4 linked regions of the Homo sapiens genome follow. The protein of the gene in region 1 interacts with the protein of each later gene in a biochemical or structural test. Each region holds a gene or a part of one and is shown on either strand. Other genes may lie near its edges.

Region 1 (6,854 bases):
GGCATGGCAGCATGCGCCTGTAGTCCCAGCTACTCAGGAGGCTGAGGCAGGAGAATTGCTTGAACCCAGGAGGCAGAGGTTGCAGTGAGCCGAGATCATGCCACTGCACTCCAGCCTGGGAAACATAGCAAGACTCCATCTCAAAAAAAAAAAGAGATTATCTTTGGACAAAGCACTCCTCCACTCCAGGCCTCTGGATCCTTCCTTGAATAAGGACAGGCCAGAACATCAGTGGTCCTCAGTCTTCTTTCCACCCCAACCGATCTGAGGGATTCAACATCTCTCCATTTATAGAAGTGATGACAGTCTGAAAACGTCCCACAGGTGATTCTAAGACACTGCCTTAGAAGCTGTTCCCCTGCTTGTACCCTCTACTACACTACAGCAGACTTATCTGAGGTTCCACACAACTCTATGGCCTGCCACCATCTATAGGTACAGGAAAATTATATTAATACTTCAGTGAGCTTAAGAAGAAAGGCCAAAAGTTAGTATACATCTTCATTTGTTGGAACATGAAAGATTCAAATAAGAATTCTATACTGATGACATCAAAGAAGATGGTGTAACTGTTCATACGGCAGGCGGCACATCTAACCTAGAATTGGCTTCTAATCAAGGAGGTAGGTAAAGGAGGAGGAAAAGTAGGGAATCAATCAAAATAATCACCCCTAAGGTTTGAGGGATTGGTCTGAATGTGTGATTAATGGAAAGAAGATTTGTGTAAGTCGATTTTCCTGATATCAGAAAGGGAAGCCAAAAATGAACACACAGAGATGTGATGGTGTGTCATCCCCAATTTCTTTTCCAAAATATCAATTTGTCACATGTTTGATATCAATTCTATGTAAGTAATTTTTTTTTTTACTCAACAATTCTATAAACTAATAACCAATAAATACTAAAAAGATTTGGACACACGCCATATTATAAATATAAATCAAATACACTAGTTCAGCATGGTGATTGATGAGAACTGCCAAGGGTGGTATTTACAAATAATGTTCATATTTCTTTGAATATCCACTTACTGTGGACAAATTATACAGCTTAAGCTATTGTTAGTTGGGTATGGTGACTTGTGTCTGTAATCCCAGACTTTCTGGAGGCCAGGAGTTCAAGATCAGCATGGGCAATATAGTGAGATCCCCATCTCTTAAAAAAACACAATGAAATTTAAAAAGCTCTTGTATGTGCAAAATCATGTGAAAAATTCTCACAACTAGGAAAGAAGGAAATAGAATTTGAAAACTTCCTTGGAAGATGTGCATTTTCTGATCCAAATGTGAACCAATATTACTTCGTCATTAATAAGTATGCAAGGTATGGTAAAGATGCTAAGGCTTCAAAATTAGGGTATTTATATAAAACAATGTGTAATTGCGCTACCTTCAAACAAGAAAACATTATTACTTAATAAATGCTGATGCTGATTGTTAACTGTATGTTTTACAATGAGATGACCTTTAAATGGCACAAAAAATAACAGGTGATCCACAGATTTAGAATTTGAAAATAAAAAACTGGCAGGCTCTAAAAGTTGCTGTCCTCTGTACCTAAAGATGTCACCAGTGGCGAGTCAGAATGCAATGCGTACGTCACTATCACTGCTCTAACATATACTATTGCTATAATGGACTCCTGGTCAAAAAAGTGGATAAAAATGTGGGCATCAATTTCTTCTGAAACAACTACAAAATACACTGTCCATTGTTGCTTAACTTAGTGAAAAGCACTCCCTATTTAACAAACACATTCTCAATGTTGCCAGTGTGAACTGTAACTGTAAAACCTAAAACTTGGGTCAGTACACAGACCAACAAGAAATAAAAATGAACAGAAAGAAATGCCCGAATCTGAATTCTGAAGGATGTTCGCATCTGAAATGGTGGCAATAAATACTGTGAAAAAAAGACGATTCCATACACAGGGTTGAGATGGGTAAACAGTTGTTGGATGAAGATATATATTTCTTCCTCATTCTATACCCATGTGTCAAAGCATCAAAACAATTTATTTGCGACAGTTTATGTTGTGTCTCGAACTTTACATCTAAGTTTATCATGAGGGGGAAAAAAACCTGTTTGGCTTGACTCACCGTGAATCACAGCCAGGAGGTCATCTTGTTGTGTATCAGCAACTATGTTTTCGCTACAGCTATGTGACCTGAAGTGGCAGCAGCAGAGGCACCAAAATAGAAGGGGCAGGAGCCTTCTCCTGACTTCTTGGCCGCAAATGGGCTTTCCAGCCCATTCGGGCAACTGAGCAAGAGCCAACCGCAGAGGAGAGAAAGAACCAACCCGACAGCTCCGCGGAGAAAGGCTGCAGGCCCACCCCACCTTCCTTGCCCTCCCGGGGAGGCCGGGTAAGCAAGAACATAAAAGAGGACAGGCTTAAGAAACAGCCTGGAGAAAACACAGCATGACAGGGGTCAAAACTAGCCCCATGGAGGGCAAAACCCGGCCGTGACCGTGAAGCACAGATTTCGGGACGGTCTGGACGCGCAAGAGGCTCTCTACCCTGGGGCTCCGGGAGCGGCTCCGGCGCGAACGCGCGCGGGCCCCCAGCCTTCAAGCTCCTCCGGCCGCCTGGGACCTGACCCTGCTCCCACCTCACCTGTCCGATGCCCGCTGGCCCGGCCCGAGCCTTCAGCTCCCTGCCCGCACCCCGGCCCACCCTTCCATCCCTTGCTCTCCCCGCATGTCTCTCGGGACCACTGGCCGAGTCAGCGTGGGCAGGGGGCCGCTGCCCCGCAGCCCCAGGCCCGGCCCCGGCACTCACTTTCTGAATCCTCTTCAGCGCCATGGGTCAGGGATGGCGGTGGGGACACCGGCCGGCAGGGGTCGGCTGCGGGGCTCAGGGGCGTGGGTCGTCGCGGGTTGGGCTCGCTGGCAGCTAGGCTGGCTCCGCGCGGTGGGTCCCCGGTTAGCCGCTCCCTGGCTCGCTCCGGGCGCCGGTCCCTGCTCCGTGTGCGCCCGAGCGCGAGTGTGCGCGAGTGTGCGGGCGGGGACGCCGGCGAGACTCTTTTGTTTCCGCTTTTGCTTCTGGGAAGGAGCCTGCGCCCTCCCCGCCGCGCCCCGCCCCGCCTGGCACACTGGGAAGTGTAGTTCCAGCCCTGTCCTCGGCTGCAGGCCCCCGGACGCTGCCAGGTAACTTACTGCTGACCTCAGCCAGGCAGCTTAAGGTGAGAGCTGCCGGGGGCTGGAATTAGCCTCTACAGTCTCATTTAGAGCAAATTGCTGAACCTGGGGCTGCGCATCTGTAAAATGGGGATAACAAATGAGCTCCTAACGCACATAAAGGAATTTCTAAATCATCAGTTAGTAATTCCTTATCCAATAGGTGCCACAGCTGGTTTTATTATTTTTACCTTTAAAGATTTCACTGTCTTTTCTCAAATATATGGATTGTCTCACTCACCCTGCACACATGCACAAACTCATATCAGACCCCCTACTTACCTCCTTGGTTCTTATTGCAGAGGAAAAAGGTGTCTCTTCTGTCCAATGTGCAAATCTTCCTTGTCTGAGTGCATTGTCTGCTCGTAGGTATGCCCCTCCCATAAATTACCCACTTCGAACACCGAGTTCTGGGCTCTCACTCCCATCATTGGTTCCTTCCCTTCCGTTGACAGTCCCTGACCAATAGTCAACTCACGCTCCCCACTCTCCAATTCCTATGCACTTGTGTACCCATTAAAACTTGGCTTCTTGGCCAAGATGAGATTTGGGTGGGGACACAGCCAAACCATATCACTCAGGGATATAAAGATGGCAACAAATAGACACTGTGGACTACTAGAGAGGGGACCGAGGGAGCAAAGGTTGAAAAACTGTTGGGTACTATTGTCAGTACCTGGGTGATAAAATCATTCATACCACAAATGTCAGCATCACACAGCATACCCAGGTAGCAAACTTGCATATGTGGCCTCTAAATCTAAAATAAAAGTTGAAAAACAAAAACAAACAAACAAAAACAGAATCTTGAGCCCCACTCCAGACATGCTACATCACACTTTGCAGTTTAATAAGACTCCTAGGTGATTCAGATGAACATTAGGGTTTGAGAAGCACTATGCTGGAAGGCATAAGAGGAGATCCTAAAAATGCAGATTTCCTTTAAAGGATTTAATTTAGCAGTAAGTTTTGGGTGAAGCTCTGGAGTCTAAACTTTAGAACAAACTTCCCAGGAAGTTAGGATGCAGGTATCTGAGGACACTTTTGAGAATCTCCACCTTGAGCAAATCTTCAAATCCTTCTAAGCCTCAATTTCCTCACCCATAACTAATGCAATAAATGTTGTATTTGTTTAAAGGGAATAGAGCTGAAACTTTTGGTGCCCTTCTAACTCAAAGGTCTATGATTTGCACAAAAAATGGTGATTTTTTTCTCTTCTTTATAAATAGAAAGAAACCTAAAAAGTAAGCTTACAAGATTATTTTTGTCTTTCCTAGGGCAGTTTACCTCCCAACAAAAGAGAAATTAACACTTATTAAAAAAATCTACGTTGGTATCTTGCAATAATAGTTTACACTTTAAGATTGCTTTAAATGGGCTGGGCACAGTGGCTCACGCGTGTAATTCCAGCACTTTTGGAGGCCAAGGCAGGTGGATCACCTGAGGTCAGAAGTTCGAGACCAGCCTGGTCAACATGGTGAAACTCCTTCTCTACCAAAAATTCAAAAATTAGCCAGGCGTGTTGGCACATGTCTGTAATCCTAGCTACTTGGGAGGCTGAGGCAGGAAAATCGCTAGAACCTGGGAGGCAGCAGTTTTACTGAGCCGAGATGGAGCCATTGCACTCCCGCCTGGGTGACAGAGTGAGACTCCATCTCAAAAAAAAAAAATTGCTTTAAGCTTTTCAAAACATTTCACACACATTTTTGCAACATGCAAATACATGTGCAACATATAGTAGTTCAGTGTGTTATTTAATCTCCTACTCTTTCTCCCAGGATGTAGTTTCAAAACATAGTTTGTGATCAACTGCATAACTAATTCAAAAATGTTACTTAATGCTTACTATATGCCAGGCACTGAAGACACATGATAAAGAAAATAGACAAGATCCCTACTCACAAGCAGAACATCAAAATCCTATGGGGTGGGGAGGAGGGTACAAGACTTGTTAAAAATGCAGATTTCTAGGCATCAGGCCACACTGTCAATAAATAATCCTTGCCCTCTGAATTATCTCTGTTTGGGATATTATACTGCACTAGGTGGTAAAATATATGCAAAAGAAAGATTATATTTGGTCTTACCTTCCATAAACTTAAAATCTTCATGGTAGGAAGATAAATGCATAAAACAAATAAGTAGCAATGCAAGATATTCATTCATTCAGTCAGTCAGTCAGTCATGCAGACAACAGCAACAACAAATTTCAGGAAAATTTCCTTAAAGCAAAACAAATGGTGCAGAGGATAAGGGCTAAAGATGTTCAAAAGGGCATTGCCATGGACGGAGAGTAAGGGAAACTTTGTAGAGACAATAGAACTTGAATGCAAGACGCATTTGGAAAAGCAAAAGAATAGGTGAAGAACTTCCAATCGTAAGGAAATGCATGTGGAATGGACATAAGTATGAAATGCTCAACATGGAGGCCAAGCAAGGAAATACAACTAAGTCCAATGGTTGAGATCAGATAGTGAAGGACATTGACTGTTAGTCTTAGAAACATGAAATTGAGCTTAAATGCAACAAGAGGTTGTGTATCAGGAGAGTATTATTGTGACAGTGATGCATTAAATAGACAATTAGTCTAGTGGAGGGACATGGAATGAGGACAGAATCAGGAAAGGGAAACAAGTTCAATTACTATTGCAGTATTTAGGACCAAAATAATAAGGGCCTGCCTGTACAAGGTTGATAGCACTAGAAACCCAAAGAAGAACTTTTTGAGAAAAAAAAAAAAAAAAGCCATGGAACTTTGTTGCAATTACATACAGAAGTAGAAAAATAGAAGAGTAAATATGAACTCTAAATTTATGAGTGGTGGATTGAGTTAAAGGTGTTAACATTGATAAGCTTTTGGAGGGGAGAATGGTAAACCGAGCTTAAGACATACACATATATGAAATGTATGTGGTATTCAAGTGGAACTTCCCTAGTGGTAGGTAGAGATATGGGGCTGAGAATATGGATATGAGAGCAATCATGTGAGAGAATGATTTTGAAACCGTAAGATACAAATTGCTTCCCAAAGAGGAAAGGGGAAGACAGAGAAAAGAGAAGGCACTAGAAAATGGGCTTTGGGGAGCAGCAACAGTGAAGACCTATGAGGAAAAAGATGGGTCATGGGTGGGAAAGTAAGTGGAATACCAAGAGTGTTTTGTGTAGTGGCAGCAAAGAAAAGTGAGAGCTTTAGGTAGGAAAATAGCTTCAAAAAGATGTATTTTGCAACAGGGATCTAAGGGAATAAGGAACAGGAAATGGATATCAGAATTAGTGAGGTGCTACCTTCAAGGATAGTGTTTAAGAAGGGTGATGGGTAAATAAGACATAGTGAAAGATAAATGGGTAAATTAAATGGAGTCAAGCAGTGCTTATCACACTTTGGAAAATGCTGGGGAGGAAGGGGCATGAGATAGGAACTAAAAGAGGGCCTGTGATTTTTCCAAATGTGATCTCTGCATGCTTGAAGGTAGATGTGAAAGAGTTAGTGGGTCTATTATGTATTGCTTCAAAGCAAATTACCCTAACCCATAGCAGCTTAAATCAACAATCAACATTTATCATCTCACATAGTTTCTGTGGGTCCGGAATTTGTGAGCATCTTAGCCGGGTGGTTCTTCCTTGAGGTCTTTCATAAAGTTGCAGTCAAAATGTCGGCCAGGGTTGCAGTCATAT
Region 2 (7,029 bases), on another chromosome or scaffold:
AACGTAGAAAGGGGATAGAATGGAGAGTTAGAGCCTGGTTAGGAGGGGTTGCAGTGCGCCAGGTGAAAGATGATAATGGCATGCACTTTGGTGGCCTTGATGGAGGTGTGAGAAATGGCTGGATTCAGGAAACATTTTGAAGATCTAGAGGAAGGATCTTAACATGCAAAGTCCTTGAGAAGGAACAAAACATTAGGAATTTTGCTTTTATATTACAGTCAATTGGTCTCTGTCCTTTTTATCTTAACCTGGCGTGTCTTATATTTGAGCTTCTAAAGGCCAGGGTTTAGAAGGGTCCACAACTTTGCATGCAGTCGAGTGTTTAGTTGAAACAAGAATAAAGGAGGAAGAGTGAAGAAGAGAAAAAATAGTAATAGGAAAAGCCATTGCCCTCAGTTTTATGGCTCCCTTCCAAGTTCACAAACTTTTGTGAGGGCCACAACAACTTGCCCAGAGAGCACAGGTGCCTTCCCTTGACTGCTGTTCCCAAGATCAAACAGCTAGTGGCAGTTGTAGAACACGGATCTCTTGGCCATGGAGCTTTTAGAAATGCTCATGCCCAGGCTCCACTGCAGATTAGTTAACATCAGAATCTCTGGGGATGTGCTTGGGCTTTGGCTGGTTTGTTTTTCCCTGAATTCGCCAGGTGAGTCTTATATGCAGACAGGGCTGAGAACCTCTGGGATGTAGCGTGCTGTATCCTCTAAAAAGGATTTGAGACCAGGCACGGTGGCACATGTCTGTAATCCCAGCACTTTGGGAGGCTGAGGTGGGTGGATCACCTGAGGTCAGGAGTTCCAGGCTAGCCTGACCAACATGGAGAAACCTCGTCTCTACTAAAGATACAAAATTAGCCGGGCGTGGTGGCACATGCCTATAATCCCAGCTACTCAGGAGGCTGAGGCAGGAGAATTGCTTGAACCCGGGAGGCGGAGGTTGCAGTGAGCTGAGATCGCGCCATTGCACTCCAGCCTGGGTAACAAGAGTGAAACTCCATCTTGAAATAAATAAATAAATAAATAAATAAATAAATAAATAAATAGGATTTGAAAGAAGTTGCCCCCACTTGGGAAAGATGTAGTGGTTGTTTCTCTAGTCTCTATGCATTCTCCTGAAGAGAAGATGGTAGGCCTGCATGCTGAGAGGTTTTATTTGTTCCTGTTCCTTTTAAAATTTCAGATCTTTCTTACTGTAACAGCTGACCTGAACTGTAACCTGTTCTCCAAAGAGCAGAGGGCATACATAACCACACTGTGCCCTAGTATCAGAAAAATGGAAGGTCACGATGGAATTGAGAAGGTGTGTGGTGACTTCCAAGACATTGAAAGAATACATCAATTTTTGAGTGAGCAGTTCCTGGAAAGTGAGCAGAAACAACAATTTTCCCCTTCAATGACAGAGAGGAAGCCACTCAGTCAGCAGGAGAGGGACAGCTGCATTTCTCCTTCTGAACCAGAAACCAAGGCAGAACAAAAAAGCAACTATTTTGAAGTTCCCTTGCCTTACTTTGAATACTTTAAATATATCTGTCCTGATAAAATCAACTCAATAGAGAAAAGATTTGGTGTAAACATTGAAATCCAGGAGAGTTCTCCAAATATGGTCTGTTTAGATTTCACCTCAAGTCGATCAGGTGACCTGGAAGCAGCTCGTGAGTCTTTTGCTAGTGAATTTCAGAAGAACACAGAACCTCTGAAGCAAGAATGTGTCTCTTTAGCAGACAGTAAGCAGGCAAATAAATTCAAACAGGAATTGAATCACCAGTTTACAAAGCTCCTTATAAAGGAGAAAGGAGGCGAATTAACTCTCCTTGGGACCCAAGATGACATTTCAGCTGCCAAACAAAAAATCTCTGAAGCTTTTGTCAAGATACCTGTGAAACTATTTGCTGCCAATTACATGATGAATGTAATTGAGGTTGATAGTGCCCACTATAAACTTTTAGAAACTGAATTACTACAGGAGATATCAGAGATCGAAAAAAGGTATGACATTTGCAGCAAGGTTTCTGAGAAAGGTCAGAAAACCTGCATTCTGTTTGAATCCAAGGACAGGCAGGTAGATCTATCTGTGCATGCTTATGCAAGTTTCATCGATGCCTTTCAACATGCCTCATGTCAGTTGATGAGAGAAGTTCTTTTACTGAAGTCTTTGGGCAAGGAGAGAAAGCACTTACATCAGACCAAGTTTGCTGATGACTTTAGAAAAAGACATCCAAATGTACACTTTGTGCTAAATCAAGAGTCAATGACTTTGACTGGTTTGCCAAATCACCTTGCAAAGGCGAAGCAGTATGTTCTAAAAGGAGGAGGAATGTCTTCATTGGCTGGAAAGAAATTGAAAGAGGGTCATGAAACACCGATGGACATTGATAGCGATGATTCCAAAGCAGCTTCTCCGCCACTCAAGGGCTCTGTGAGTTCTGAGGCCTCAGAACTGGACAAGAAGGAAAAGGGCATCTGTGTCATCTGTATGGACACCATTAGTAACAAAAAAGTGCTACCAAAGTGCAAGCATGAATTCTGCGCCCCTTGTATCAACAAAGCCATGTCATATAAGCCAATCTGTCCCACATGCCAGACTTCCTATGGTATTCAGAAAGGAAATCAGCCAGAGGGAAGCATGGTTTTCACTGTTTCAAGAGACTCACTTCCAGGTTATGAGTCCTTTGGCACCATTGTGATTACTTATTCTATGAAAGCAGGCATACAAACAGTAAGTATTTCTCAAGTCCATGGGTTTCTTGCCACTATGCTACGATTACCAGGGCAAAAGAGACTGTCCTGTTGCCTATTAGACAATAGATTTCCCAAGGAATTATCTCCAGGGTCATGTGCAAGGGACTGAAATAGTGGTAAAGGTCACAATGTTTGCTGGTAATTCAAATACCTTTTGTGTCTATTTCTTAAGACAGAGAAAGGGTGGGTGGAGATTATATCTTGAGATGGGGGTATCAGGAAGGTGGACAGTGTTTCCAGCATGAATTCAAGGAAAGAGGAGAAATATGAGTTATTGGGAATATGAGCATAACTTCAATACCTTTCTTGCTTTTGATTTGCTTTATCTACAAATGAACACATCTATACCTATAGTAAAAATTAGACAGGGCACTCTTTTCACATGACATTTTCTTGTTCTCACACAGGAAGAACACCCAAACCCAGGAAAGAGATACCCTGGAATACAGCGAACTGCATACTTGCCTGATAATAAGGAAGGAAGGAAGGTTTTGAAACTGCTTTATAGGGCCTTTGACCAAAAGCTGATTTTTACAGTGGGGTACTCTCGCGTATTAGGAGTCTCAGATGTCATCACTTGGAATGATATTCACCACAAAACATCCCGGTTTGGAGGACCAGAAATGTGAGATCCTTTTGGGATGTAATGGCTGCTCAACAGAGTATAGGGATTATGAAATACGGCAATTTCTGGATGTGGATATAAGTAGACTCTATAGCAGTGGAATTGGTGTTTTGAGAGCTGCTGATCGGGGATGGTAATCTCAAAGACAGAAAGATTGGTCCCCATCAACTTCTACCCTGCCAGCTATAAAGTACTATGGAGTTATTTAAATTTTGCACCAAAGGACAGGGGGCTTTTGAATCCGAGATGAATACTATATAAGCTGATTTAATTTGAGGCGTTGTGTCTATCTGAAGGCTAGATGCTCGGAATGTCACTTTGCTTCCTTTTAAGGTCACCTTTCTTTTTCACCCCTTCCCCCACCAGTCCACAGAGAACCTGAAATCACTTGGCCAATAATATTCTAGAAAAAGTCTAAGTTGTGAGGAGACTATTGGTAGAAACTGTATTATACGAAATCCAATTGTTCTTTATGAAACCCAAATAGGATTCCTCAGACCCTTGGCACTAAAGAAAAAATATATACCCTGAGACTTTTCCAAAACCTTAAATTTGAAAATCCTACTAGCATGTGATTACGATGCCCCCCTAAAACACAGTATATTATTATATTTTTAGGAGAGTCACTACTTACCATAAACTGAAAAATTTTAAGAATTAACATAGACATGAAGCCTCAAAGTAAATCAACGTATTACTATTCATCTTGGATTCTCAAACCCCCTGCCCTTTGATGCGAAATGTAATAAATACATCATATTAATACTTTGTAGTTGGCAGGGTAGAAGCCAGCTTGAAAGGCAGATGCTGGCCAGACAGCTAGGCTCACTCGCTAGCGAAATGACTCGCATCTGCGAATTTAAAAGTCATGATACGTCATCCACCTTCAGGATTACTTGTGAATGTTTGCAACACTGGATATTAATTAAATCCTTAAATGCTGGATATCTATTGCACATATCCGAACAATTTGTGGTGACACTAAAGGAATTTTTGTTTCTTCAGGTATGGCTATCCTGATCCTTCTTACCTGAAACGTGTCAAAGAGGAGCTGAAAGCCAAAGGAATTGAGTAAGACAACTGCTGGAAGATGTCTTAAATCAAGCTTTCAAAAAAATATATTTTAGGAGGCTGATTTAATGCCAGTCTAAATCCTTATGTAGAAAGGACTTTGAAATTTTTCTTCTCAAGAAATGGTTTGTATAAGAATAACAATCTGCTAGTCTGTCATTTCTGGAGTGATACTTTTTTTTTTGAGACGGAGTCTGCTCTGTCGCTCGCGCTGGAGTGCAGTGGCATGATCTCGGCTCACTGCAAGCTCCGCCTCCCAGGTTCATGCCATTCTCCTACCTCAGCCTCCCGAGTAGCTGGGACTACAGGCGCCCACCACCATGCCCGGCTAATTTTTGTTTTTGTATTTTTAGTAGAGACAGGGTTTCACTGTGTTAGCCAGGATGGTCTCGATCTCCTGACCTCGTGATCCGCCCGCCTCAGCCTTCCAAAGTGTTGGGATTATAGGCGTGAGCCACCGCGCCCAGCCCTGGAGTGATACTTTTTATGGAAGACAAAAGCCCCCCAAATCTGTGTAAAATCTGCTGCAAAGGTGTCATCCCTCTTGTGTCATCACTGGGGTTAGAGGTGGGTCCGAAATAATCTTCTGTGTCCTTCAGTTGGACTCTCGGCTGCCAATTGATCTCTTTTTCATTGCCATCTCTGGGGTGGTTCTTTGGTTTTTTGTGTGTTTTCCCCTTCATCTCTACCTGTGAAAGTGAAATTCTATTGTAAATGGGAGGAAAAAGGGTTGGTTGTGAAAAATTAAAGACCCACATTCTGCTTTCTTACTCATGGTAAGAAAAGTGGCCATGAGTAGAGATTGGGCAAGCATTGGTAATAAATGGAATAAGACTATTATTATTATTATTTGAGATGGAGTCTCACTCTGTCACCCAGGCTGGAATGCAGTGGTGTGATCTTGGCTCACTGCAACCTCCACTTCCCGGGTTCAAGCGATTCTCCTGCCTCAGCCTCCTGAGTAGCTGGGATTACAGGTGTGTGCCTCCACACCCGGCTAATTTTTTGTATTTTTAGTAGAGACGGGGTTTTGCCATGTTGGCCAGGCTGGTTTCAAACTCCTGAGCTCAAATGATCCTCCTGCCTTGGCCTCCCAAAGTGCTGGAATTACAGGCATGAGCCACCACACCCACACAAGACTATCATTTTTAATGACCAAGAGCCTAGTATATAGTTGGTGCCTGTCTTAGTCTGTTTGTGTTGCTATAAAAGAACACCTGAGACTGGGTAATTGATAAAGAAAAAGGTTTGTTTGGCTCACAATTTTGCTGGCTAGAAGGTTGGGCATCCGGTGAAAGCCTCAGGCTGCTTCCATTCATAGCAAAGGGCAGCCAGTGTGTGCAGAAATCAAATGACAGAGAGGAAGTGAGAGAGAGAGGTGTCGGGGAGGTGCCAGGCTCTTTTTAACAAGCAGTTCTTCAGGAACTAAGAGTGAGTCACTCCCATGAGAACAGCACCAAGCCATTCATGGGGGAATCTGCCCCCATGACCCAGACCCCTCCCGTTAGGCTTCACCTCCAACACTGAGGATCAAATTTCAACATGAGATTTGGAGGAGGTCAAACAAACTAAACTGTAGCAGTGTTTCATAAAATTGTTTGCCTGACTCAGGTTGCTAGTAAGCCAGCAGAGGGATATTTGCCTCCTAAATCTTTGGCAGAGGCAGGAGTAAGGAAGCCATTTCTGGAGTCCTTGCTACTAATTTGGAAAACTGAGCTTCTTTCTTTCATTGCTTTTTCCCTTAAGAGACAAGTCCTTACTATATTGCCCTGTCTCTCAAGGGAAGACATCAAGACTGGACTTGAACTCCTGGGCTCAAGCCATCCCCCAACCTTGGCCTCTCGAGTAGATGGGATTATAGGCATGTGCCACGGTGCCTGACTTGAGTTTCTTATTCTAGAACACTTGGAGCCTGAACTCTGACCAGGCCCCTCACTTGAGCCTTTGCTTTCTGCTCCTTGTAAACTGCCATATTGGGTGCACTTGCCCTGCCACAGTAATGCTATATATTTCTGAGCATTGTTTTTCTCTAGATAATTTTATATTTTTGAGTATACCCCACTTCCAAGTGTTTTTTGTTTTGTTTTGCTTTGTTTTTGTTGTTGTTGTTTTGAGACAGGGTCTCACTGTGTCCCCCAGGCTGGAGTGCAGTGGCACAATGACGACTCACTGCAGCCTCAACCTCCTGGGGCCAAGTGATCCTCCCACCTCAGCCTCTCAAGTGGCTGGGACCACAGAAGTGCACCACCATGCCTGGCTTTTTTTTTTTTTTTTGGTCGAGATGGGGTGTCCCTGTGTTGCCCAGACTGGTCTTGAACTCCTGGACTCAAGGGATCCTCCTGTCTTGGGCTCCCAAAGTGTTGGGATTACAGGCGTGAGTGACCATGCCTAGCTCACTTCCAGGTTTAACAGACAAAATAAACTTACTCTAGTTTCCATCTCTATCATTTTATAATAACCGTAGCCCACATTGTAGTAGTTTTTCAGCTCTTTACTAAGTCCCACCAATTCATGTTTTCACCCTTAAAATCTTTCTCACTGATACTCTCTCTGGACAGAAAAAAGGTGAAATAAGCCTACTATAAGGAATATATG
Region 3 (7,029 bases), on another chromosome or scaffold:
AAAAATGGAAAAAAGAAAACAGCAAAAATCAAAAACAACAACCAGAAAATAAAGATGATGCTTAGTCAAAAAGACAAGGCTAAAGACATATTTTGAAAATAATGGAAGCTCTGAGAATAAATGAGAAAAGGGTCAGGAGCTAGAATAGTGTCTGGCACAAAGTTAATGCTCCATAAATATCTGTTGAACAAATGAACAATCAAACCTTAGTTCTATAATTTAAAGAGTAGGAATGAAAAGTAATGGTGAGAGGGGTAGAAGACTTAGAACTTAATATATTTTGTTAAATTATTTCTATTAGCAAAGTAGGGATATATTAGAAAATAAAAATACAAACTTGGTGTTGAAGTATACTAGTTTTTCAATCTAAGATTTATTTTTGTAATTATACGTAACCTAATATAATGCATTCTCTGAAGTTCTTAAGATTTCTAAAATTTAATTGCTAGTAACTGAGAAAAAGTCTCATTTCAAAGTTGTAGACTATATTCTGGTTTGCAAGTTCAGAAGACTTGAGTAGCTGGGATTACCAGGCATACACCATCACAAATACTTTGTTTTAAAAATTTTTTGTAGTGATGGGGTCTCGCCACGTTGTCCAGTCTGGTCTCAAACTCCTGGGCTCAAGCAATCCACCTGCCTCAGCCTCCCAAGGTGTTAGGATTACAGGCATGAGTCACCACATTCAGCCTGAATTAAAACAATTTTTTCTTAAAGTATCATTCTTCCATAAAATTTCTTTTATTATTTATTTATTCATTTTTAAAACAGAGTCTTGCTCTGTCACCCAGGCTGGAGTGCAGCGGTGCGATCTCAGCTCACTGCAACCTCTGCCTCCCAGGTTCAAGCTATTTTTGTACCTGAGCCTCCTGAGTAGTTGCCTTTGAAGCATATTATTAATTTTGTTTTTGCTTTTCTTTCTTTCTTTTTTTTTTTTCTTTTAGAGAGTGTCTCACTCTGTTGCCCAGGCTGGAATGCAGTGGCATATGATCATAGCTCATTGCAGCCTCAACCTCCCTGGGCTCAAGTGGTCCTCCCACCTCAGCCTCCTGAGTAGAGCTGGGACTACAGACACATGCCACCACACCCTGCTAATTTTTATATTTGTTTATACAGACAGGGTTTTGCTATGTTGCCCAGCCTGGTCTTGAACTCCTGGGCTTAAGCGATCTGCCTGCCTCAGCCTCCCAAAGTGCTGTGATTACAGGTGTGAGCCACCACACTCAGCCATATTATTATTTTATTCTGGGAAAAAAAAAATCTTAAATTACCTCTTTATTTATATCCCTACTATTCTTGGGAAACTATAACGTAATCATTAACCTAAATGTGTTTTCATTCACTCACTCACAACACAGACTATATGCAGGCACGATACTAGGTAGTAGAGATATATATATAATGGTGAGGCAGAAACGCTAAGGGCTCTTTTTCACAATGTAAATTATTATATATTGTTGACTTGAAGTCATTTCTGGAGACTTTTCTGATTGTCTTTGAAAGAAATATAAATATTTTATAAGTGGATAGTTTTAGATTTTATGGGGTCTCTCAACAGTTGTGGAGATAAGTGTTCTCTTCTTTGAGCAATTGTTGGCTGATGACAAATGGCTACCACTAAGAAGGCTACAGGAAGGACATGCTTGCCTAATCTTCACAGAGAAAAGAGAATTTGATGAGGCTGGGCAAAGGTTAACCGTGACTGTATTGCTGCTACACTAGTGGTTTATAGACTGAGTAATTCACACTTTGGTGAATGTATGATGCTATATCACTATGGTCTGATAGGTTTGTCTGGGTTGGGTCAGAGAACAAATCCATCTTCATGGGCAGGGTTGGATTTATCCCTAAATGAAGTGGACAATCTGACTGTCAATCATCCTGTGAAGAAATAGATCCCAGATGGCCTTGCACAAGGATAAGGAGAAATCTTTATTCTCCTTCTGAGCTTTATGAATATTGGGGGGGCCTGAATTTTGATAAAGGAAAACATTATTGGGACATTCCTAGTGACTTGTGTAAACTTGCCAAAGCTACACAGAGATGAACCAGAAGCTAGGCAGGGGAGATTTATGAGGATGAGCCCGGGGGCACTAAGAGAGGTCACAGCTAGTTGCAGCTGTAAATCAACATTTGTGATATAATTCCCTTCCGTTTTCCTTAAGTCTCCAGTAAGAGCTTGTTAAAAGTTGCAGTCTGTTTTCAGCTGTGTTGAAGGGACTTATAGGTCTGGTCCATGCTTGGGAAAGGAGAGATCAGCATTTCTTTTTGTCTAGGACAGAATGATGATAGCAGTCAAAACAGCCAGATGAGAATGTATGTGCCCAGAAGAGTTTTTGTGAAGGGCAATAGAGAACATAGTGGATACGTTTAGTATGGAAGGACATGAACAACTTGTCCTAAGAGATTGTGAAACAGTATACTAGGACTTGCCTAAATAATCGACGGATGCTCTGGAAGACTCAGTTCTTGTGTGGACAGGTAGGGGACTTAATAGTAATTTGTGTATTAATGTATAGTCACAGGCTAAGACATGCTTTTATGCTAACATTAAAATTAATAACCATCCAGCCAGGCACGGTGGCTCATGCCTGTAATCCCAGCACTTTGGGAGGCCGAGGCGGGCGGATCACTTGAGGTCAGGAGTTTGAGACCAGTGTGGCCAACATGGAGAAATCCCTTCTCTACTAAAAATACAAAAATTAGCCTGGCATGGTGGCAGGTGCCTGTAATCCCAGCTAAGGGAAGGAGGCACGAGAATTGCTTGAACCCAGGAGGCAGAAGTTGCAGTGAGTTGAGATCATGCCACTGCACTCCAGCATGGGTGACAGAGTAAGACTGTCTCAAAAAAAAATTAATAATTGTCCCTGATCCCACCCTGATTTACTCCAAAGGGGAGTGAGCAACTAGCCTGGGATTAAAAATGTGCCATGATGCAACAAGGATTCCATTTTCAAAGCGTTAAGAAAAAAAAAATGTGCCATGAATGCATAATTGGACACAACGTCAGCTATCCAGAGAAAAAAATATGAATTAAGGAAAAACATGAAAAATACTTTTGTACATCATACATTTTTGACTTATGAGCAACTCAAATATATTTGAATATGAATAAATTTTTCAGCATTTGAATTCAGAATACTAAACATGAAAAAAACCTGACTGGATTGAGTATATTTTCAGATATGCTAGATGAGTATATTTTTCATAACATATAGACTGATATCAAATCCTTATGAAAATAGACTGTATTAATAAATCTACATACTTGATTCTTTTTCCTCAGTTGCTCTTTCTCTCTCCTCTTCCCTTATTTCATCTTCTGCATTGAGTAAGTCTAACACAAGATCATTGACTAGTCTATAATTCTCTCCAGTTGCTAGGATTTTTCTCTGAACTGTCTGTTTTACCAGGCTTCTACTAAAGCCCATTTCCACGGCAGCATTAATCACAGGAGTATTCATCATGATTGCATCTTCTGAATGGTCTTCTCCAGGTTCAAAATGGATAACTATATGGAACAAAGAATTTAACACATATTAGGATAGCCTTATATTTCTTAAAAATTGAAATTTGAAATGAAATCAAAAATTGAAAGGTTTTATAATATTAAAAATGTAAAACCAACAAAATGTATAGGCATTATTTTGTATGAACATTGTTAAATTTAAAATGATATACACGTTCAGTCATTAAATAACAACTTGGAATATTGTACTTAGATGCAAAATACACATTACCTGTCATAACTGGATATACATATGTGAGCAGGAGAAGGAAACAGAATGGCAGGGATTACCTCCCACTAGAATTGAGATTATTTTTCCCTATGTTGAATGAACAAATGAGTTTTCAATCAAGAATAATTCACATATTTTTCAGAGAGGCTATGGTTATAAAATATTGCTTCCTTGGAATTCATTCTCAACAGTGCAATCAGAGTGACTTTTTAAAAACACAAATATGATGTGTCACACTTCTTAAATTCCATCAACAATTCCATTGCTCTTAGGATAAAATCCAAAATAAAGTGTCTTACAAAGTCTCATACAATCTGAACCTTGTTTACCTCTTCAGCCTCATCTCTTGCCACTGAATCATTCACATTCTGCACTCTAGCCCAGAAGTCACAAACTGATGGCTCTAGTGTCAATTCTGCCTGTAGTGCTGACCACTCATACAGCTGGCCTGCTTCCCTGATTTATCTATTAGCAACTCCTACTTCTGGCCATATGGAATTTTGTTCAGTTCTTCAAAGGTGCCTATTCTCCTTTGTCACTTCGGTCTTTCATATGCTGTTCCCTCTGCCTGGAATACTCTTTTCTTCCATTTGTCACTCGGTTAACTCCTACTCTTCCCTTGGATTTTCTGCTAAGACAAGTACTTCCTTTGGAAAGCCTTTTCTGACCCTCCAAGTCTGGGTTAATTGTCCTATATGCACTCTCATATTACACTTTACTTTTGCTGCCATATCCCTTTCTCCTGTCTGTGTATTTGTCTGTTTCCAGTAGATACATGAGACCAGGAGTTATGTTTATCCTGTTCTGTATTCTTTTTTTCCTTTTTTTAAATTATTTTACTTTAAGTTCTAGGGTACATGTGCATAATGTGCAGGTTTGTTACATATGTATACATGTGCCATGTTGGTGTGCTGCACCCGTTAACTCGTCATTTAACATTAGGTGTATCTCCTAATGCTATCCCTCCCACATCCCCCTACCCCACAACAGGCCCTGTGTGTGATGTTCCCCTTCCTATGTCCAAGTGTTCTCATTGTTCAATTCCCAACTATGAGTGAGAACATGCGGTGTTTGGTTTTCTGTTCTTGTGATAGTTTGCTCAGAATGATGGTTTCCAGCTTCATCCATGTCCCTATAAAGGACATGAACTCATCCTTTTTATGGCTGCATAGTATTCCATGGTGTGTATGTGCCACATTTTCTTAATCCAGTCTATCACTGATGGACATTTGGGTTGGCTCTATCCTGTTCTCTATGCTTTCCTCAGAACAGGCGATATACAATATACAATAAATATATACTGAATTGAATTGAACATGAGATAATGGAGTAGAGGGGCTTGTACAAATATTAGCTCTGTTGCATTTTAGGTGTAAGGTGATGTACAAGTCATTTAACCTTTCTGAGCCTCAGCGTCCCTATTTAAAAAGGTGACTAACGTGTTCTATTCTTTCCCTTTCACAGAAAGAATATGTGAGCAATCTAATATCATAGTACATCTGCTCCCACACTGGCCCAAGAACAAGTGTTAGGCTGGATGTATGTAGTTTGTTAAAACTATACATGCCTGAGCCCCACCTTTAGATACTCAGATTTAATTCAGTAGGTCTGAAGTAGAAACTGGAAATCTGTCATATTTTTTAAAGTTCTCCAGGCAACTCTGATATGCACTGAAGTTTGGGAAATACCAACACAGTATATTTGAAAATGCATTCATCGTAAATTATAAATCAATATACAGGTACATTACTATTATCAACTTTCAATATTAACAGTACCAAATGACTCTATTTAAATGCATTCATTATTATCCATTGTACTTACTTGATGACTCTGCATTTTCATCTCCTGGGCTGTCTGATGTGGATAGCAGCTGCAGAAAAAAAAAATATATATATATATATATATATAAATTAAAATAGAAATCTTATCTTACCCATTGCAATGAAAATGACCCAACAGACATATTTTATTCAACTTGTTGCAAACCACTTGCTTACTGGCAAAATAATTTTTTAACCAAAAGCAATATTTCATTTATATTTGATAGTTATTCCCTAGGCCATAAACTAATAGAGTTTCAGTGTGTGTATATAATAACAAAACCCATTTTCATTAAGGCAGGAAACGGACTATATCTTTTCCATAATCCATGTGACAATCAATTTTCCTTTCATCCACAGGTCTTACCTACCCTGGGTCATCCTTTGGGATAAGTTGGACCCTGTATCAGTTTCATTGCTCATGGCTAGGATGGGTTTGACCATCAAACTATTATGTAAGTTATTTGCTTTCTCAAGGTTAGAAAAAGCAATAAAATTCTCTTTCTCAGATCTTTTGAAGGAAAATTTATATAGTGAAACTGTTAAATACTACTATCCCAGTCATTTTTTCTCGAAGTTTGATTTATTGCAACTTGTTTGAAAAACATCACAAGTGTCATTATCAGGAGACTACCATTTATGGATCTATTTTTCTCCAAAGAATAATACTTTCTAAAATCATGTCAGGTTTGATAAGAAAAAGAAAATGTATTTCTAAAACAACTCTTGTCTTTTCACTCAAATAGCACTCTCTGTAATTATCAGAAAGCAATTTCTCTGATGGCAACCAATATTTAAAAAAAGAACTTGCCCTACCTGTTCAAGTAGATGAGGGTAACTGGCTTGAACTTGACGGATGAACTCCTGTCCTTTAATTCTTATCAAGTACTCACACCTAAAATGTAAAGAAAATAAAATTTGAGGGATTATTTATACAAGTGAAATGAAAATGTAATAACATAAATTTCTCATCTCTAGGTGTTTATTCCATTTCAAATCTGGTTGTTTGCCTCAAATCACAGAATCATTTAAGATCATTTATTCTAAACTTAATGTTAGAAGAATAAATACATCCTAGCCCACTGGGAACTGATTCTATTGTATTGCTTTTAAAAAAAAAACTTTTTTTCTAAAACTAACCCATAGTTATCCTATGACAGGATTCAAATTTTTTGTGTGAATTTTTAATTGTTTTGTAAGATGCTTCTCATGACAGTCAACATTTTTCATACAGGTTGAATGTTTTACAAAATTAATATTTTTATATTTGCCAAGATACATTATGCTTCTGCTAATTTTTTTTTTTTTAGACAGAGTCTCGCTCTGTCACCCAGGCTGGAGGGCAGTGGGATGATCTCAGTTCACTGTAACCTCTGCCTCCCAGGTTCAAGTGATTCTGGTGCCTCAGCCTCCCGAGTAGCTGAGCTTGCAGGTGCCTGCCACCATGGCCGGCTAATTTTTGCATT
Region 4 (7,029 bases), on another chromosome or scaffold:
GACCTCATGACACATCCGCCTCTGTCTCCCAAAGTGCTGGGATTACAGGCATGAGCCACCGTGCCCTGCTGGGCATTGCTGAATTTAAGCCAGTTTTGTGAGCCTTGGTTTTCTAAATGATTTGAATACTGTTTACTTTTTGTGGTATAATATAGAGAGTTTACATGCTAAGTTCTTAAGTTCATTGAAGGTATTAGTAAGGGCATGAGAAATAACACAGGAGTAGAATTAGGTGGATCTAACATAAGCTATATAAAAGTCAACAGAACAATTTATTTGAGTTAAAAAGAGGAGGGCTGCTGCCCCAGACCTCACCTTTAGTTTCATATGGGCCGGTTTCTGATGACAAATGGAATGAATCATAATTTTTAATTGTTTTGGGCATTTATTTTTCACAAAGTTGTCTAGCTTTGAATGTATGTAGTTTTCTTTCAGAATGAGTTGTTTAATTATCAAGGAATGCAACAAGCTATATTTTAAATTTTAAAATGAAATAAAGTAGAAAACGTGATTTAATTAAAACATCAGTCTGCAACGATCTTTAAGAAAATAAGAATGTAGAGGACCTGAATGACATAATTTATATTTCCTGTAGCTGTTAAATTCCACACCCCAAAAACAGAACGTTACACCTCTTTTTTAGAATAACTATGGAATGATTTGAAAAATAGTCTCATTTCTGAAGAAAAAAGAGTTGAACTCTGAGATCTGTTAGTAGAAATATAACAAAAACAAAAGCAACTCTTAGAAATTAAATCTCTAATAAACTCATTGGTTAAAGCAAAATTTTAGTCTGCAATGGGAGAATATCTAGGAAAAATTAAAATTAAATCACAATATATACAAGGCAGGAAAATCACATGATCCTGGGAGGCGGAGGTTGCAGTGAGCCGAGATAGTGTCGCTGCACTCCAGCCTGGGCGATAGAGCAAAACCCTGTCTGAAACACCAAAAAATAAAAAATAACAACAACAACAACAAAAACACAATGTATAAAAAATCTTACAAAGTTCAGCTTAGCTACAACTTTAGAAAATATGCTTCTTGAAGTATATGTGTCCTTTCATTACTAAAAGTGAAGACTAATAACACTTGAAAGGCTCACCTAGAGTTTTGTTTTTTTGTTATTTTTTTTTAAGAAATTCATCTATTCTAATAAGTCTTTAGAACATATTATTACTTTCAGATTAGAACCTTAAAAACAAAAATGATATGAGGGATCCAGGAACTATTTCCTTTCTTAAGAAGCTAATTTCTTACCTTCTTTTAAGACTCTTTTCATGAATTCTGGAAAGATGGAAGAAGAAGTGATACAGAAAAGAGAAACCTTAGGTCCTCTTTTGGAACAGATGGTTGTACTTGTATGATATCTTAAGAAATTTATGGCATCCTTACAGATTGAGTTAGAATTATTTTGTGAGATTTTCAGTGACTCATTTCTAAGTTCTTTTGAGATGGTGTTTGGAATAAAAGCCTTAAACTTTTTTTTAACAAGTAAATTTGGTATTAATGAAACTTTTTTCTAGATTTTCATTGGTATATGCTCTTATGTGGAAAGTGGATATCAGCTATGAATTACATAAATTGCATTTGTTACATTAATATCTCACCCGAATGGCAGCAGTTTTCTGGATATCAACATGTGTTTGTTTTTTATTGCTTATGTAAATCTCATGTAACCATTCCCCAAGGTCTAAAAAATAATCTAACTGAAAACAGTTTTTTCATGTTCCTCAAACTTGCTTTTAGAATAGTGCTGGCATAAGGATTTGATTTATTGTAAATATGATGCACCATATCAATCATGGAATTATTTGAATGTTTTTTGGAACTTTTGTGGTAAATTCCATATTTCTCCAGGACTTTTTTGTGTTCTTTCTGTTGACAAGTACTTTAAAGTTTTAGCAAGTATCACTATGTTGATTTCATGTAGGTTTATTTATTGTTTAGTGCTTGAAATGATTTTCTGTGTAAAATCAGTTTGAGAATTGGTTCGTCTGTCTCTGCATTTGCTGTGTTTACCTGAATTTTAAGTACAAATTGGAAATCGGTATCAGTGTGGGAATCATCAATTGTCTTTTCCGTAAACTTTTAAAGCCATTACAGTCACATTATGTATTAAAAGTGTGTTTAGATCTAAAGTCTAAATTTGCTTTTTGTTAAAATGTAGCATATTTGAATATCTGCACTAAAATTGCTGAAAAATGTGTTACTGCTTAAGCAACCTTAACAACGCTGTGCAATTATGACTACTGGTGATAATAAACTCTTCGGTATTGCGGGGCGGGGGTGGTTCTGAGAGGCAATTTCTTTTTGCCAGATTATTTAGTAGAATAATAATTAAAATTTATAAATATTTGGAAAAAGGGTAGGGTCAACAATGAATTGTGGGAAGCTTTAAGAAATATATAAAAATATTTCATTTTCAGTATTGTATTTGCATCTCAGTTTCCTGATAGATTTCTGTTTTGATTTTCTGCTGACAGGTCACATTTAGGGCAGGCAAAACATAAGGGATATAGCCCTCCTGAGAGTAGAAAATCTAATTCTAAGGCACCCAAAGTGCAGTCTAATACTACTTCTGAACTGTCAAGGGGACACCTTTCTAAAAGGTAAATCTTCATGTTGCTTATACATTTTCAAGGCAGAATTATTTGCATTCAAATCATTGCATAATGTTAAAACTTGAGGTTATTCCAAAACGTTTTGATACATATTTTCATTATTCTCTAAGTAACTTTTAGGATTGACAGTTTATCACCTTTGCAGTGATTAGTGCAGTATACCCTAGACAGTGAGTTTGTCAATGATAAAATGATATTTTTGTTTGGAGAGCCGTAAGATTCCCCCTTTGCTTAACAAACCATTATGGCCATTTTTTATTTCTTTTTATTTTTTAATCTTTTTTTTAGTTTTTATTGTCAGAGCCATAGTTTAGGTTTAAGTCAGTGATTCTTAAGATTTAATTGTTAAGAGACTTTGGAAAGCAATGTTAACTTTGAAGATTTGATAGTACTACAATATAAAAATCTCTAACCTTCATTTTGAAAGTGCGTATGTTAATGCTTATTTCTTCTAAGCTTTGACAAAGCAGTTGTGCTTGTGAATAGGGCATCAATATTCTGGCTTCCTCTGGTTCCGAACAATTAAGTGTTGTTTTTCTTGTAATCTTAATTCTTGTTTTGTGATTACGAGTGTTAGTGTCAGTAATCTTTGGGCTAAAGAACACCCTTATCTTTTAATCAGATATTTTAGTATCCAAAGTCACATCTGCTTTTGTTTTGTTCTTTTATTTCGTTTTACAGATTTGAACCTTCTGAAAACCTATGTTTAATACTGGACTTAGTAGGAACATATTCATACTTTATTTTTTGAAAGCATTATATATGACAGTTGTAATTATGACAGGCTGATATTAACTGTTTTCTTATCTAACCTCTTAGAAGCTGCAGTTCATCATCTGCTGTGATAGTTCCACAACCAGAGGATCCAGACAGAGCCAATACTTCAGAAAGACAAAAAACGGGGCAGGTGCCTAAGAAAGACAATTCTCGAGGAGTGAAGCGCAGTGCTAGTCCAGACTACAACAGGACCAATTCTCCTAGCTCTGCAAAAAAACCAAAAGCACTTCAGCATACTGAATCTCCCTCAGAAACAAATAAGCCACATAGTAAGTCAAAGAAGAGACATTTAGACCAGGAGCAACAACTGAAATCTGCACAATCACCATCAACAAGCAAGGCTCATACCAGGAAGAGTGGGGCCACTGGCGGTTCACGGAGTCAGAAAAGAAAAAGGACAGAGAGTTCTTGTGTAAAGAGTGGCTCCGGGTCTGAATCAACTGGTGCAGAAGAGAGATCTGCGAAACCTACCAAGCTGGCTTCAAAATCAGCCACCTCAGCCAAAGCTGGGTGTAGCACCATCACTGATTCTTCTTCTGCTGCCTCTACTTCCTCCTCGTCTTCTGCTGTAGCCTCGGCCTCCTCCACTGTACCACCAGGTGCCAGAGTGAAACAAGGAAAAGATCAGAACAAGGCCAGGCGTTCCCGTTCAGCGTCCAGTCCCAGCCCCAGAAGAAGTAGCAGGGAAAAGGAACAGAGTAAAACTGGTGGCTCTTCAAAATTTGATTGGGCTGCTCGTTTCAGCCCTAAAGTTAGCCTTCCTAAAACAAAACTGTCTCTTCCAGGGTCTTCTAAGTCAGAGACATCAAAACCTGGACCTTCTGGATTACAGGCCAAATTAGCAAGTAAGTTTACAAAAAGGTATTTTTCTTTAATTAAAGAAAGTTTCTCTTGGTTTGTCAAAAGCAATTATGCTTTAAAGTTAAGGGTTTTTTCCCCCCAGTCTTAGATAATCTTAGATGTATTACTGTCTGTGTAATTAAGTACATAACAGCATGTAGTAAGTGCTACTACATTTAGTTTTGTTGAGACAGGTAAGGAATACTACCTTCCTATTATTACGAAACCATCACATTTTAGTGTCTGTGTCTTTATTGGTCCTCGCGGCATCTCCTACTTCACTGATTTCCTAATATCAGGATGGGACATAAAGTTGGATTTTCTTCTATACCACATACAAAATTATCATTTAGTTAGGAGTTCTTTTTAGTTATGAGTTGCCATGATCAGAGATCAAATATATATATGTTTTTTTAGATGGAGTCTCACTCTGTCGCCTAGGCTGGAGTGCAGTGGCGCAGTCTCGGCTCACTGCAACCTCCGCCTCCTGGGCTTAAGCAATCCTCTTGCCTTGGCCTCCAGAGTAACTGGGATTACAAGTGTGCACACCATGCCTGGGTAATTTTTGTGTTTTTAGTAGAGATGGGGTTTCACTGTGTTGGCCACGTTGGTCTCAAACTTCTGACCTCAAGTGATCTGCTCACCTCGGCCTCCCAAAGTGTGGGGATTACAGGTGTGAGCTACCATGCCTGGCCAAATATATTTTTTTATATGAGATATTCTTGATGTGTAGATACAGTGAATTAAGTTATTACTATAAATATACCTCAATGTAAATTAAACTTTTTCATATGTAATATCTCACAGTCTTTTAAGGAGTTTTGTCTAAAGATGAATACTACTTATGTTTCACTACTCTTATATACACTACTCTGTGTCCTAAGTGAGTAAGAATATTGCTCTCTAAAAGTTTACAGTGGAGTAGAAAGAATTTGTGTTTTGAGAATACATTCAAGCAAAGAAACAGAAAGTAGATGGAAGAAACATAGCGTTATGTGCATTCCTTCATGAGTCAGTTTTGGAGATATCCAGGAACTCTTCTCCCTCTCTCTTTACCAAAAGACTTCTTCAGGGAACCAGCTGCTCATCTGGGGAATGCTAGTGTCTTTCTTTTCTTTCCTCCCTTCTTTTTTTTTTTTGAGACAGAGTCTCACTCTGTTGCCCAGGATGGAGTAGTGGTGTGAGTGGTACGATCTTGGCTCACTGCAACCTCCACCTCCTGGGTTCAAGCAATTCTCCTGTCTCAGCCTCTCCTGAGTAGCTGAGATTACAAGTGTGCGCCATCACACCCAGCTAATTTTTGTATTTTTAGTAGAGAGGGAGTTTCACCATGTTGGTCAGGCTGGTCTTGAACTGGGACAAGTGATCCACCTGTCCCAGCCTCCCAAAGTGTTGGGATTATAAGTGTGAGCCACTGTGCCCAGGCTTCTTTCCTTATTTCTATTTCAGAAACCTATAAAGGACAAATAGGATAATAAAGCACTTATCTCTACAATTTTTAAAAGCATTTTAATTTTATAATACCTAATTAGGAAGCTTGCTTTTAAGCATCTTTTCTTCTCTGATGGATTTTAGATCTACATTTGGGTAGGGCTATAATGTTTTCTTGGTTTAAAAAGATTGTATATAGTGTCTACTAGCATTCTTGTCAAAGTATAGCTCATATTGAATCAGCCTAACTTAAAATTGAATCAGAACTATTAGCTCTGTTTAATTTAACACTGCAGTCTAAAACTACTTTTGGTTGATTCACATATTACCTGAAATGACAATACTATTAATAGTAGGTACTATATAAAAAATTTTATGTTTAACCTGTATGATAGGTTATTGTGAAGTAACATATTTTACTTTTAGATTGAACTTTGTTCTGTTTTGGTATTTTAAATATGCAGAACATCTGTATAAAATGTTTTAAGTTTAAAGGATTAAGATAGGCTAGATCAGTATCTTGAAGTGAGAAGGAAAAAAAGGTCCAAGTTAAAAGGACAACCAACTATTTGTCCTTCCAATGCTTTATTGATAATTGGAGTTACATATGTCAGCTTTTATGCTGCCTTTCCTCCCTGTGTTTTGTGTCTGTCAGTCCTGCTATGTAATATTCACAGCCAGTGAGCCAGGTTGAGTTTACAGCAAGCTGCTTAGGATTCACTTCCCCTTCTGCCTTCCAGTCTGCCTCACTTGAAGAACTCATCTCTTATGTGTAGGAGGGTTCTAGGGCCAGGCAATAGCAGATTGTACTTGAGTGTCATGGCCTTGGTCCTTTGTAGAGATCAGCTTTCTTTTCTTTATATAGTCTGTTAACTTGATTTTTAAAAGAAAACCCAACTCTACCAGTGGCTAATCAGTGGGATTTTCTCCTTGGTGTTTCAATCAGGAAACACCAAGAGTTTTGGCAGTGTCATTTTGCTGCTGGTTTGATAAAACCAATCCAGATAATTCCATTAAGCCTGCTCAGCACATAGTCACAAACTAATTTAGTATTTTAAAACTCATTTCACCATTATTTCATTCACTTGCACAGTATCTGTGTTCTGTTGTCACTATTAAATCACTTTTCCGTTTTCACTGCCACTATCCCAGTTCTGATCTCTCATCGTAGCCTAAGCTGTTGAAACAAGAGAATGGAACCAGCGTTTGTGTAGCATAAAATAAGTACCAGGTATTTTACATATGCAGTTACATATTCTTTTAAAAAAAATGGTGCTTTAGGATACACTTTTTTTTTTTTTTTTCTGAGACAGAGTCTTGCTGTATTACCCAGGCTGGAGTGTGTGTAGTGGCGCAG

The links.
Region 2: the proteins of UBE2D1 (region 1) and DTX3L form a complex in vitro, tested with the Homo sapiens proteins (5 studies listed by BioGRID).
Region 3: the proteins of UBE2D1 (region 1) and BIRC3 form a complex in vitro, tested with the Homo sapiens proteins (5 studies listed by BioGRID).
Region 4: the proteins of UBE2D1 (region 1) and TRIP12 form a complex in vitro, tested with the Homo sapiens proteins (5 studies listed by BioGRID).

What each region holds. Positions count from the first base shown.
Region 1 is NC_000010.11:58,331,153-58,338,006, reverse strand, and holds the start of UBE2D1 (ubiquitin-conjugating enzyme E2 D1), read right to left. Parts: upstream 3,002-6,854; 5' UTR 2,806-3,001; coding exon 2,782-2,805; intron 1-2,781.
Region 2 is NC_000003.12:122,567,310-122,574,338, forward strand, and holds part of DTX3L (E3 ubiquitin-protein ligase DTX3L), read left to right. Parts: intron 1-1,179; coding exon 1,180-2,715; intron 2,716-3,145; coding exon 3,146-3,363; intron 3,364-4,368; coding exon 4,369-4,438; 3' UTR 4,439-7,029.
Region 3 is NC_000011.10:102,327,481-102,334,509, reverse strand, and holds part of BIRC3 (baculoviral IAP repeat-containing protein 3), read right to left. Parts: intron 6,459-7,029; coding exon 6,380-6,458; intron 5,614-6,379; coding exon 5,565-5,613; intron 3,512-5,564; coding exon 3,269-3,511; intron 1-3,268. UniProt on the Homo sapiens protein: Multi-functional protein which regulates not only caspases and apoptosis, but also modulates inflammatory signaling and immunity, mitogenic kinase signaling and cell proliferation, as well as cell invasion and metastasis.
Region 4 is NC_000002.12:229,855,989-229,863,017, reverse strand, and holds part of TRIP12 (E3 ubiquitin-protein ligase TRIP12), read left to right. Parts: intron 1-2,486; coding exon 2,487-2,612; intron 2,613-3,443; coding exon 3,444-4,246; intron 4,247-7,029. UniProt on the Homo sapiens protein: E3 ubiquitin-protein ligase involved in ubiquitin fusion degradation (UFD) pathway and regulation of DNA repair.